Linked DNA regions of Homo sapiens. The protein of the gene in region 2 interacts with the protein of the main gene of each other region in a biochemical or structural test. Each region holds a gene or a part of one and is shown on either strand. Other genes may lie near its edges.

Region 1 (3,500 bases), 9.7 Mb from region 2:
AATTTTGTATTTTTAGTAGAGACGGGGTTTTTCCATGTTGGTCAGGCTTGTCTTGAACTACTGACCTCAGGTGATCCGCCTACCTCGGCCTCCCAAAGTGCTGGGATTACAGGTGTGAGCCACCACGCCCAGCTACAGTGTCTTTCATTATACTGAAATTTCTCCTTTTGGCCAGGTGCGGTGGCTTATGCCTGTAATCTCAGCATTTGGGGAGGCCAAGGCGGGTGAATCATCTGAGGTCAGGAGCTTGAGACCAGCCTGGCCAACAAGGTGTCTCTACTAAAAATACTAAAAATACAAAAATTAGCCGGGCGTGGTGGTAGGCGTCTGTAATCCCAGCTGCTCATGAGGCTGAGGCAGGAGAATCGCCCAACCCAGGAGGCAGAGGTTGCAGTGAGCCGAGATTGCACCACTGTACTCCAGGCTGCGCAATGAAGCGAGACTCCATCTCAGAAAAAAAAAAGAGGAGTTGTGATCTTTCAAAAAAAGACCCTGTCTTTTTTTTTTTTTTTTTTTTTTTTTTTTTTTGAGAAGGAGTCTTGCTCTGTTGCCCAGGCTAGAGTACAGTGGCGTGATCTGGGCTCACTGCAACCTCTGCCTCCCAGATCCAAACGATTCTCCTGCCTCAGCCTCCTGAGTAGCTGGGACTACAGGTGCCCACCACCATGCCAAGCTAATTTTTGTTTTGTTTTGTTTTGTTTTGTTTTTGAGATGGAGTCTTGCTCTATCCCCCAGGTTGGAGTGGTGCAGTGGCACGATCTCGGCTCACTGCAACCTCTGCCTCCCAGGTTCAAGCAATTCTCCTGCCTCAGGCCCAGGCTAGAGTACAGTGGCGTGATCTGGGCTCACTGCAACCTCTGCCTCCCAGATCCAAACGATTCTCCCGCCTCAGCCTCCTGAGTAGCTGGGACTACAGGTGCCCACCACCATGCCAAGCTAATTTTTGTTTTGTTTTGTTTTGTTTTTGAGATGGAGTCTTGCTCTATCCCCCAGGCTGGAGTGCAGTGGCACGATCTCAGCTCACTGCAACCTCTGCCTCCCAGGTTCAAGCAATTCTCCTGCCTCAGGCTCCCAAGTAGCTGGGACTACAGGTGCATGCCACCGTGCCCGGCTAATTTTTTGTATTTTAGTAGAGACCGGGTTTCACTGTGTTGCCCAGGCTGGTCTCGAACTCCTGAGCTCAGACAATCCACCCGCCTCGGCCTCCCAAAGCGCTACAATTACAGGCGTGAGCCACCGCGCCTGGCCTAATTTTTGTATTTTTAGTAGAGACGGGGTTTCACCATCTTGGCCAGGCTGGTCTCGAACTCCTGACCTCAGGTGATCCGCCCTCCTCAGCCTCCCAAAGTGGTGGGATTACAGGCATGAGCCACTGCCCCTGGCCTAATTTTTGTTTTTAGTAGAGATGGGGTTTCACCATGTTGGGCAGGCTGGTCTCGAACTCCTGACCTCAGGTGATCCGCCTTCCTCCGCCTCCCAAAATGGTGGGATTACAGGCATGAGCCACTGCCCCTGGCCTAATTTTTGTTTTTAGTAGAGATGGGGTTTCACCATGTTGGGCAGGCTGGTCTCGAACTCCTGACCTCAGGTGATCCGCCCTCCTCAGCCTCCCAAAGTGGTGGGATTACAGGCATGAGCCACTGCCCCCGGCCTTTTTTTTTTTTTTTTTTAAGTGAGGTTTGTTGAGATATAATTTACATCCAATAAAATAAACTCTTTTCAGGACATTTGTGTTGACAAATGACAGGGCCAGCTAACCATAATGAAGATAAACCCTATTTCCATCACTCAAAACAGCTCCCTTGTAGTCTGTCCCCCCACCGCCGGCCCTTGAGACTGCCAATCTGCCCTCTGCCCTGTAGCTCTGGAAACTCGGCTCTGTGGACCCACACAGTGCCTGGGCTTTTGAGTCTGTGCCTTGGCCTTAGCCTGGATGAATCCCACCAGCACCCTGCTGTGTGCGTCCATGGTGCCTCCTTTCTCCCATTGCTCGAAGACCCCATCGGGTCTCTTCTTGATTTCAGACCCTGGCCGGCTCCTGTGGGAAGTTTGCCCCCTTTGAAATTAAAGAGCACATGGTCCTGGCCCCTCGGCGTCGGACCGCTTTCCATCCAGACCTCTGCAGTCAGCTGGACCAGCTCCTCCAGCAGCAGAGCGGCGAGTTCTCCTTCTTGAAAGACCTCAAAGGCCGGCAGCCCCTGAGGTCCGGACCCACGCACGTTTCCACCCGGAATGCAGATATTTTTAACAGGTCAGAGCCTGAGGAGGTCGGCCTTCACCCACTAGTGATGCTGGAGGCCAGCATCCTGAACCCTGGGGTCCCCGGGGTGGGAGCTCTGGGTCCTTCTGTTGCTTGCTTCCTAGTGCCCTCGGGCCCTGGGCTTCGGTGCTGGCTCAGGCCTCTCTCCACCTGGCCTTCCTGTAAGCTCCTGAAGTCTTCCTCTCCCTGTCTTCCCAGCTCCTCGTGGAGGAATCTTATTTCCCTGCTGGTCTCCAGTGAAGGATACCCCCCAACACCTCGCTCTTGCAAATCTCATTCCACAGAACCTCCCTTGCTAAAAATGCTCTGGGGCTGCACCTGGGCAGCTGTCCTCCCTCTCACCCTGCAGGCTGCACCCTCCTCCATCTGTCCCTTCAGTCCATGTTCCTGACCTTTCTTTGGGGACAGGCAGTGCTGCTTTTTAACAAATGCCCATCTTTCTAGAATTGTTAGGCCAGCTTCACAGGGAGGTTCCTGGGAGGTTTGTGAGCAGGTCTGTAAGGCAGCGTGATCCTGAGCCTGGGGTTTTCCTTCTCAGTGATGTCGTCATCGTGGAGCGTGGGAAGGGCGACGGTGTTCCCGAGAGGAGGAAGTTTGGCAGGATGAAGCTCCTGCAGTTCTGTGAGAACCACCGGCCTGCCTACTGGGGTACCTGGAATAAGAAGACGGCACTCATCCGCGCGCGAGACCCCTGGGCCCAGGACACGGTGAGCTAGCCCCAGAGTGCCTCCGTCCCCGTACCTCCTCACTGTGCCCCTTTCCTCCAGCCCCAAAGACAGTTGTGAGTCCCATGTGTTTCTTTTCTCAGAAGCTCCTGGACTATGAGGTGGACAGTGATGAGGAGTGGGAAGAAGAGGAGCCTGGGGAGTCCCTGTCCCACAGTGAGGGGGTAAGGATGTGCCCCAGCTGTCTTCACTCACAGACGGCTTGTGTTTGAGTCTCTGTCCCACAGTGAGGGGCTAAGGATGCAGCCCAGCTGTGTTCACTCACTGACAGCTGGTGTTTGACCTGCTGTGTGGTCTGAAACCTGAACGCACCTCAACATCCAGACTTCCAGCTTCTCTCGAAAAATCTCATCTGGTGACACTCGCCCACGTGGCTGCTGGGGATGGGATCCCGTCCGCATCTGCACCGTGGCCCCACAGCCCCCTCTTGCCTCCTGCGGGCCTGCTGCACACCATTTCCTCCTGACTGCCCAGCTGCTGTGACCTAGTGGGCTTTCTGCCGATGCTCACCGTGT
Region 2 (3,500 bases):
TTCAAGCGATTCTCCTGCCTCAGCCTCCCGAGCAGCTGGGATTACAGGTGCCTGCTATGACGCCTGGCTAATTTTTGTATTTTTAGTAGAGACGGGGTTTCACCATCTTGGCCAGGCTGGTCTTGAACTCCTGACCTCAGGTGATCCGCCCGCCTCAGCCTCCCAAAGTGCTGGGATTACAGGCGTGAGCCACTGCGTCCAGCCTCTGCTGATCATTTTTTAATAGAAATGGAGTGACTTCACCAGAGTCACACAGCCAGTTTGTAGAAGTATTGGCACTGAAGTTTTGAATCTAAATTCTTTATCTTTGCTCCAATCCAGGGAAAGAAAGGAAGGATTCCCTGTTTCAGGGGTGGAGCATAGATAGGAATGACCACAGAATTTATTGCCTAATCAGGACACTCAAAATGCAGTGAAGGGAAGTGCTATTATTATTATTTATTTATTTATTTATTTATTTATTTATTTTTGAGATGGAGTCTCGCTGTGTCACCCAGGCTGGAGTGCAGTGGCGTGATCATGGCTCATTGCAAGCTCCGCCTCCCGGGTTCACGCCATTCTCCTGCCTCAATCTCCCAAGTAGCTGGGACTACAGGCGCCCGAAACCATGCCCAGCTAACTTTTTGGATTTTTAGTAGAGACGGGGTTTCACTGTGTTACCCAGGATGGTCTCGATTTCCTGACCTTGTGATCCGCCCGCCTCGGCCTGGGATTACAGGCGTGAGCCACCGTGCCCGTCGTATGATTATGATGATGATGATGATTATTATTAGAAATGGAATCTCACTATGTCACCCAGGCTACAGTGCAGTGGTGCAATCTCAGCTCACTGCAATCTCCACCTCTCGAGTTCAAGCGATTCTCCGGCCTCAGTATCCCAAGTAGTTGGGATTACAAGCTTGAGCCACCATGCCCGGCTAATTTTTGTGTCTTTAGTAGAGACGAGGTTTCACCATGTTGGCCAGGCTGGTCTCAAACCTGATCGCAAGTGATATGCCCACTTCAGCCTCCCAAAGTGCTGGGATTACACTTTGAATCCTAAGCGCCTGGCCAGAGAATGCTATTGTTAATTGTACCTGGATGATAAAGCTTTTCCTTTGAGTAACTCAAGTGAGAAATCCTGGCTCTTCCAGTCCTAGGGCTCTCTGTGACTGATCTGCCAGCTTGCTTTCTGCCTCCTTCTGGACTCCTCTCCATGAAAAAGGGAGAATCTGCCTCACTCTCAGCAGCGTCAACTGAAAATCTGACAAAACCCCCAACCCAGCTGTGTGAGGTGGCTCATGCCTGTAATTCCAGCACTTTGGGAGGCTAAGGAAGGAGGATCTCTTGAGCCCAGGAATTTGGGCCAGCCTGGGTAACATAGCAAAACCTTGTCTCTACAGAAACATCAAAAAATTAACGGGACTTGGTGGCACGTGTCTGTGGTCCCAGCTACTCAGGAGGCTGAAGTGGGAGGATTGCATGAGCCCAGGAGGTCAGGGCTGCAGTGAGCCATGATTGCACCACTGCACTCCAACCTGGGTGAGAGAGCAAGACCCCCATCTCAAAAAAAAAAAAAAAAAAAACCACCCTAACCCCTAAGCCCCAGTTGGGTGACCCCTATTTCTCAGGGGCCCCAAGCCCCCTTTGCACTTTTATCTTCCACATCTGGAAATAGATTCTTCCACATTTAGCTGAGAAATTCAACAGACACTGGTTGAATAAGTCATAGAAGCCAGATGTTCTGACCCAGAAATAACGAAGTTGTTATGGCAGCAGAGCTCATCTTTGATTATGAACAAAGGCAAAAAGCAAACAAACAAAGGAGGCCTGGCATGGTGGCTCACGCCTGTAATCCCAGCACTTTGGGAGACCAAGGCGGGCAGATTACCTGAGGTCAGAAGTTCGAGACCAGCCTGGCCAACATGGTGAAACCCCGTCTCTACTAAAAATACAAAAAATTAGCCGGGTGTGGTGGCGGGCGCCTGTAGTCCCAGCTACTCGGGAGGCTGAGGCAGGAGAATGGCGTGAACCCAGGAGGCAGAGCTTGCAGCGAGCCGAGATTGCACCACTGCACCCCAACCTGGGCAACAAAGCAAGACTCCATCTCAAAAAAAAAAAAAAAGAAAAAGCCAGGTGTGGTGGCTCACACCTGTAATCCCAGCACTTTGGGAGGCCGAGGCGGATGGATCACAAGGTCAGGAGTTCGAGACCAGCCTAACCGACGTGGTGAAACCCCGGCTCTACTAAATACAAAAATTAGCCAGGCATGGTGGCACGCAGCTATAATCCCAGCTACTCAGGAGGCTGAGGCAGAAGAATCGCTAGAACCCGGGAGGCAGAGGTTGCAGTGAGCTGAGATTGTGCCACTGCACTCCAACCTGGGTGACAGAGCGAGACTCTGTTTCAAAAAAAAAAAAAGAAAAAAAAAATGGCCAGGCACAGTGGCTTACCCCTGTAATCCCAGCATTTTGGGAGACCAAGGCAGGTGGATCATCTGAGGTCAGGAGTTTGAGACCAGCCTGGCCAATGTGGTGAAACCCTGTCTCTACTAAAAATACAAAAGTTAGCCAGGCTTGGTGGCAGGTGCCTGTAGTCCCAGCTATTTGGGAGGCTGAGGCAGGAGAAGCGCTTGAACCCGGGAGATGGAAATTGCAGTGAGCCCAGATTGCGCCATTGCACTCCAGCCTGGGCGACAGAGCAAGACTGTCTCAAAAAAACAACAACAAAAAAGCAGGAAGCAGACTTTTTAGCTAGTTCAGCTATACTAATTGTGTACATGTCTTTAGTCTTATCATTTATATATATATATATATATATATACACACAAACACACAGTGGAGGTATGTCTTGCACAGGGACTAGCTTGTGAAGTTAGCGCAGAGAGATAACATGGGACACAGTTGAGTTGCCTTGACATTGCTCAGAAGGTTAGGTACACACGTCATGTGTACAGCTGTGTCCTGTACTCATAGCTATGAGTTCCTGCTGTATTGGTGATTTGTGTCCCATGTATAATTCTAAAGAAAGATTATATTTAGAGATGAAATCATACACGTATGTCTCTACTTATAACACTGCAGCCAGATTTTTTTTTTTTTTTTTAAAGAGATAGGGTGTCACTATGTTGCCCAGACTGGACTTGAACTCCTGGGCTTAAGCAGTCCTCCCACCTCAGCTTCCTAAGTAGCTGGAACCACAGGTGCACATCACCATGCCTGGGCACTTCAGCAAATTTAAGATGATTCTCGACTGGGCATAGTGGCTCATGCCTGTAATCCCAGCACTTTGGGAGGCCAAGGCAGGCGGATCACAAGGTCAGGAGATCGAGACCATCTTGGCTAACACAGTGAAACCCCGTCTCTACTAAAAATAGAAAAAAAAATTAGCCGGGCGTGGTGGGGGGTGCCTGTAGTCCCAGCTGATTAGGAGGCTGAGGCACAAGAATGGCATGAACCCGGGAGGCGGAGCTTGCAGTGAGCCGAGATCGTGCCACTGCACTCTAGTCTGGGCAACAGAGT
Region 3 (3,500 bases), on a different chromosome or scaffold from region 2:
ACATCTTCACTCTCCTGCTGCGCCTGCACCGGTGAGTGGAACAAGGCTGAGGCTTGATGAAAGGATTCGGGACTCGGGACATTGGTCAAGCCTGCTATTAATAAAGAGGGTCGAGCAGTCTGCACTGTGCGTGTGGGGCCCTGGCCATAACTGAGCCCTGGGAGAGGCACGATTGGCTCCCCTGAGGTACAGTGGGAAATCATCTGCACTTTCATTGGCCTCATGCTGTTCCTGAGGTGGCCCCGCTGAGAGACAGTCCCCATGCAGGAGGCGGGGCTGGGGGGATCCTGCTTGCCAACATGGCCCCAGTCCCTTTTAGTTCTGCTTTTGCAAGCCAGTTTCCACTGATGGCGTTTGCCTCCATTCCCTTCCCCTTTCTGCTCAAACCCGTGTACTGCCCATTGATGTTTCAGGAGCTTGGTGTTGTCGCAGGAGAGTGAGGGGAAGATGTGTTTCCTGAACAAGCTGCTGCTACTTGCTGTCCTGGGCTGGCTTTTCCAGGTGGGCAGAGTGAGGGTCCAGATTGGAGAGAGGTTCTACAGCTGAAGATGGGGAGTGGGCAAATGTCTGAGTGCGAATGAGGCAAGGGCTGGAAGACGAAGGTTCAGGAAAGGCCTGGGGATTCCCATCATCTCAGAGGTGGCTGCTTTGAAGCTGGCGCCTACACCCTGGGACCGTGCAGGAGGTGGGGTGGGTTGGGTGGGGGTCTCTGAAGTTGACCTGAATTGTGACTGTCTTGCCAGATTCCCACAGTCCCTGAGGACTTGTTCTTTCTGGAAGAGGGTCCCTCATATGCCTTTGAGGTGGACACAGTAGCCCCAGAGCATGGCTTGGTGAGTGCTGGGGTTCCGCCAGAGCCATGGGAAACTCAGGAATAAAGGAAGTGGGCTGCCTGGGGAGGCCCAGCCAGGGGCAGATGTAACCCTTGTAAAGGCCCTGCCAACTGCCTGCTTTCTGGGTGCGCTGGGGGAGGGGCAGTCTGCTGACACCAACCTTTTCTCCCCAGGACAATGCGCCTGTGGTGGACCAGCAGCTGCTCTACACCTGCTGCCCCTACATCGGTGAGCACCGGTCTTCCCTGGACGGTCCTTGGTCTGTCCCTCCATGAGTACCCAAAAGGCACCCCCTTGGCCCAGCTCCCTTGGATATTGCTCCGTTCATAGTCATTCCTGGGTATCTGAGCCTCTTGACTCCACAAGTAAAGTCCATGATACTTAGGGAGGGGAGAGGGTTCTGGAACTGAGAACTTGGACTTCACTGATACAGGAGAGCTCCGGAAACTGCTCGCTTCGTGGGTGTCAGGCAGTAGTGGACGGAGTGGGGGCTTCATGAGGAAAATCACCCCCACCACTACCACCAGCCTGGGAGCCCAGCCTTCCCAGACCAGCCAGGGGCTGCAGGTAAGGGCAGGGCGGAGACAGCCGTGGGGAAAATGAGGGGGGGTTGGGGGCGGGGACAGGGAGGCTGGAGGAAGCCTTGCTGCCTCTCCCTCCTCCCCCCAGGCACAGCTCGCCCAGGCCTTTTTCCACAACCAGCCGCCCTCCTTGCGCCGGACCGTAGAGTTCGTGGCAGAAAGAATTGGATCAAACTGTGTCAAACATATCAAGTAAGAGTGGGTTAAGGATCCTGGTCTCATCGCCCTACCATTTTTTCCCCTTTTTCCTCAGTTGCTAAACTGAGAAGGTCAGCCAGAGGGTGGGTGTGGGGCTGAAATGGCTGACACATTTTGAAGCAAATTTCTGACCAAATTCCCATAAATTTTCAGCCTCTTTCCGATTAACCCTCCAACCATCCCCAACCTTGCTGTCCCTGCTGCAGGGCTACACTGGTGGCAGATCTGGTGCGCCAGGCAGAGTCACTTCTCCAAGAGCAGCTGGTGACACAGGGAGAGGAAGGGGGAGACCCAGCCCAGCTGTTGGAGATCTTGTGTTCCCAGCTGTGCCCTCACGGGGCCCAGGCATTGGCCCTGGGGCGGGAGTAAGCAGCGCTGGTCCATTTGATCCACTCTCCTCTTGGCTTTCTCTGTCCTTTCTTTCCTCCTTCACACTTACTCTTTTTTCCCTTTCTTCTCTTCATGCCTCCTTTTTTCTTCTCCCTGCGCCCATTCTCTATAAGCCCTGCACTGGCTGTAGGCCTTCTGTGGCACAAAAGCCAAACCTAGGTTTGGGAGCGTGTGTGATGCTGTGGGGCTGGCAGTTGGGCTTGTCTTTTCTCTGGCACCTGGGGTGGGGCGGGAGGGCAAACGGTGCCTCCTTCCAAGGTACAGCCTCCCAGGTCAGGGGCTTGGTGCACTCGGGGCATTTACTTCTGCAGCCAGGCTGAAATACCCAGAGATCACTGACCCCATCTGTCCCCTTTTAGGTTCTGTCAAAGGAAGAGCCCTGGGGCTGTGCGGGCGCTGCTTCCAGAGGAGACCCCGGCAGCCGTACGTGTGAGGGAGGCCTGCAGCTAGCAGGCCAGGCAGTTGTGGGGAGGTGCACGGAGTAGTCTGAGGCTGCGGGAGGGTGTGTGGGGGCGGGGTCAGTGCTCGACTCTGGCATCCTTTGTTGCACCCAGCCCTCCCCTAGCCCCTGACTCTGTAGTTCTGTTTCGCAGGTTCTGAGCAGTGCAGAGAACATTGCTGTGGGGCTTGCAACAGAGAAAGCCTGTGCTTGGCTGTCAGCCAACATCACAGGTAAGGTCCTGGATGGGGGAGTGGCTGAATCAAGTGTTTAAAAAGTGGACTGGCAGAGAGTCAGAGGCATCTTGTGGGCGATGGGACTGAGAGCCAGTAGGAAACAGCAAAAGGCATGGGTTAGCATGGTGAACCTGTGCAGGGCCCTCCCGTGATTCCTTTCCCATTCTCCCTCTGCCCCACAGCACTGATCAGGAGGGAGGTGAAAGCAGCAGTGAGTCGCACACTTCGAGCCCAGGGTCCTGAACCTGCTGCCCGGGGGGAGCGGAGGGGCTGCTCCCGCGCCTGTGAGCACCATGCTCCCCTCCCCTCCCACCTCATCTCCGAGATAAAAGTACACGGCTACCCTACTCCCTTTGGCTTCCCTGCTCCCACCCCCCTGCTCTGTTCCTGGTTTTTCCTTTCTCACATCAGCTCCAGGATTTTTATGTAGAAGCTGTCTGTGCTGTCCAGCTAGTCCCCGTTTCACTCATTACTGAATGGGGGTTAGGTAGGGCAGAGCTGAATTGAATGGTTTTCCTAATTGTCACTCTGACTTTTTAATCATCCAAAAGGGGAAAAGGGCAGCTAGGACATTTTTGACTAAATGCTTATTATGCAGATGGTGATGAGAGTGCGGTGGTGAATGGCTTGATAGCAAATGAGTCTCTAGGAGGCAGTCGCCCCAGTATTTGGAGACAATTTCAGAAATGTTCTATGTGGGAGGTGATGCTTGTTTAGTTACAGGCAGTAAGAATAAACCATCAGTTCTCCTAACTTTATTTTAAAACTCAAAGACTCTCTAGAGCAGGAGTCAAGAAACAGCCCATGGACTGAAGCGAGCCAG

The links. Proteins that work in one complex are often made in the same cells at the same time.
Region 1: the proteins of ASF1B (region 2) and CHAF1A form a complex in vitro, tested with the Homo sapiens proteins (one study listed by BioGRID).
Region 3: the proteins of ASF1B (region 2) and CDAN1 form a complex in vitro, tested with the Homo sapiens proteins (one study listed by BioGRID).

Annotation. Positions count from the first base shown.
Region 1 is NC_000019.10:4,426,640-4,430,139, forward strand, and holds part of CHAF1A (chromatin assembly factor 1 subunit A), read left to right. Parts: intron 1-2,024; coding exon 2,025-2,251; intron 2,252-2,798; coding exon 2,799-2,967; intron 2,968-3,068; coding exon 3,069-3,149; intron 3,150-3,500. UniProt on the Homo sapiens protein: Acts as a component of the histone chaperone complex chromatin assembly factor 1 (CAF-1), which assembles histone octamers onto DNA during replication and repair.
Region 2 is NC_000019.10:14,130,090-14,133,589, reverse strand, and holds part of ASF1B (histone chaperone ASF1B), read left to right. Parts: intron 1-3,500. UniProt on the Homo sapiens protein: Histone chaperone that facilitates histone deposition and histone exchange and removal during nucleosome assembly and disassembly. Cooperates with chromatin assembly factor 1 (CAF-1) to promote replication-dependent chromatin assembly.
Region 3 is NC_000015.10:42,727,129-42,730,628, reverse strand, and holds part of CDAN1 (codanin-1), read left to right. Parts: coding exon 1-31; intron 32-413; coding exon 414-501; intron 502-743; coding exon 744-833; intron 834-1,006; coding exon 1,007-1,061; intron 1,062-1,266; coding exon 1,267-1,400; intron 1,401-1,502; coding exon 1,503-1,606; intron 1,607-1,818; coding exon 1,819-1,977; intron 1,978-2,361; coding exon 2,362-2,425; intron 2,426-2,595; coding exon 2,596-2,674; intron 2,675-2,859; coding exon 2,860-3,008; intron 3,009-3,500. UniProt on the Homo sapiens protein: May act as a negative regulator of ASF1 in chromatin assembly.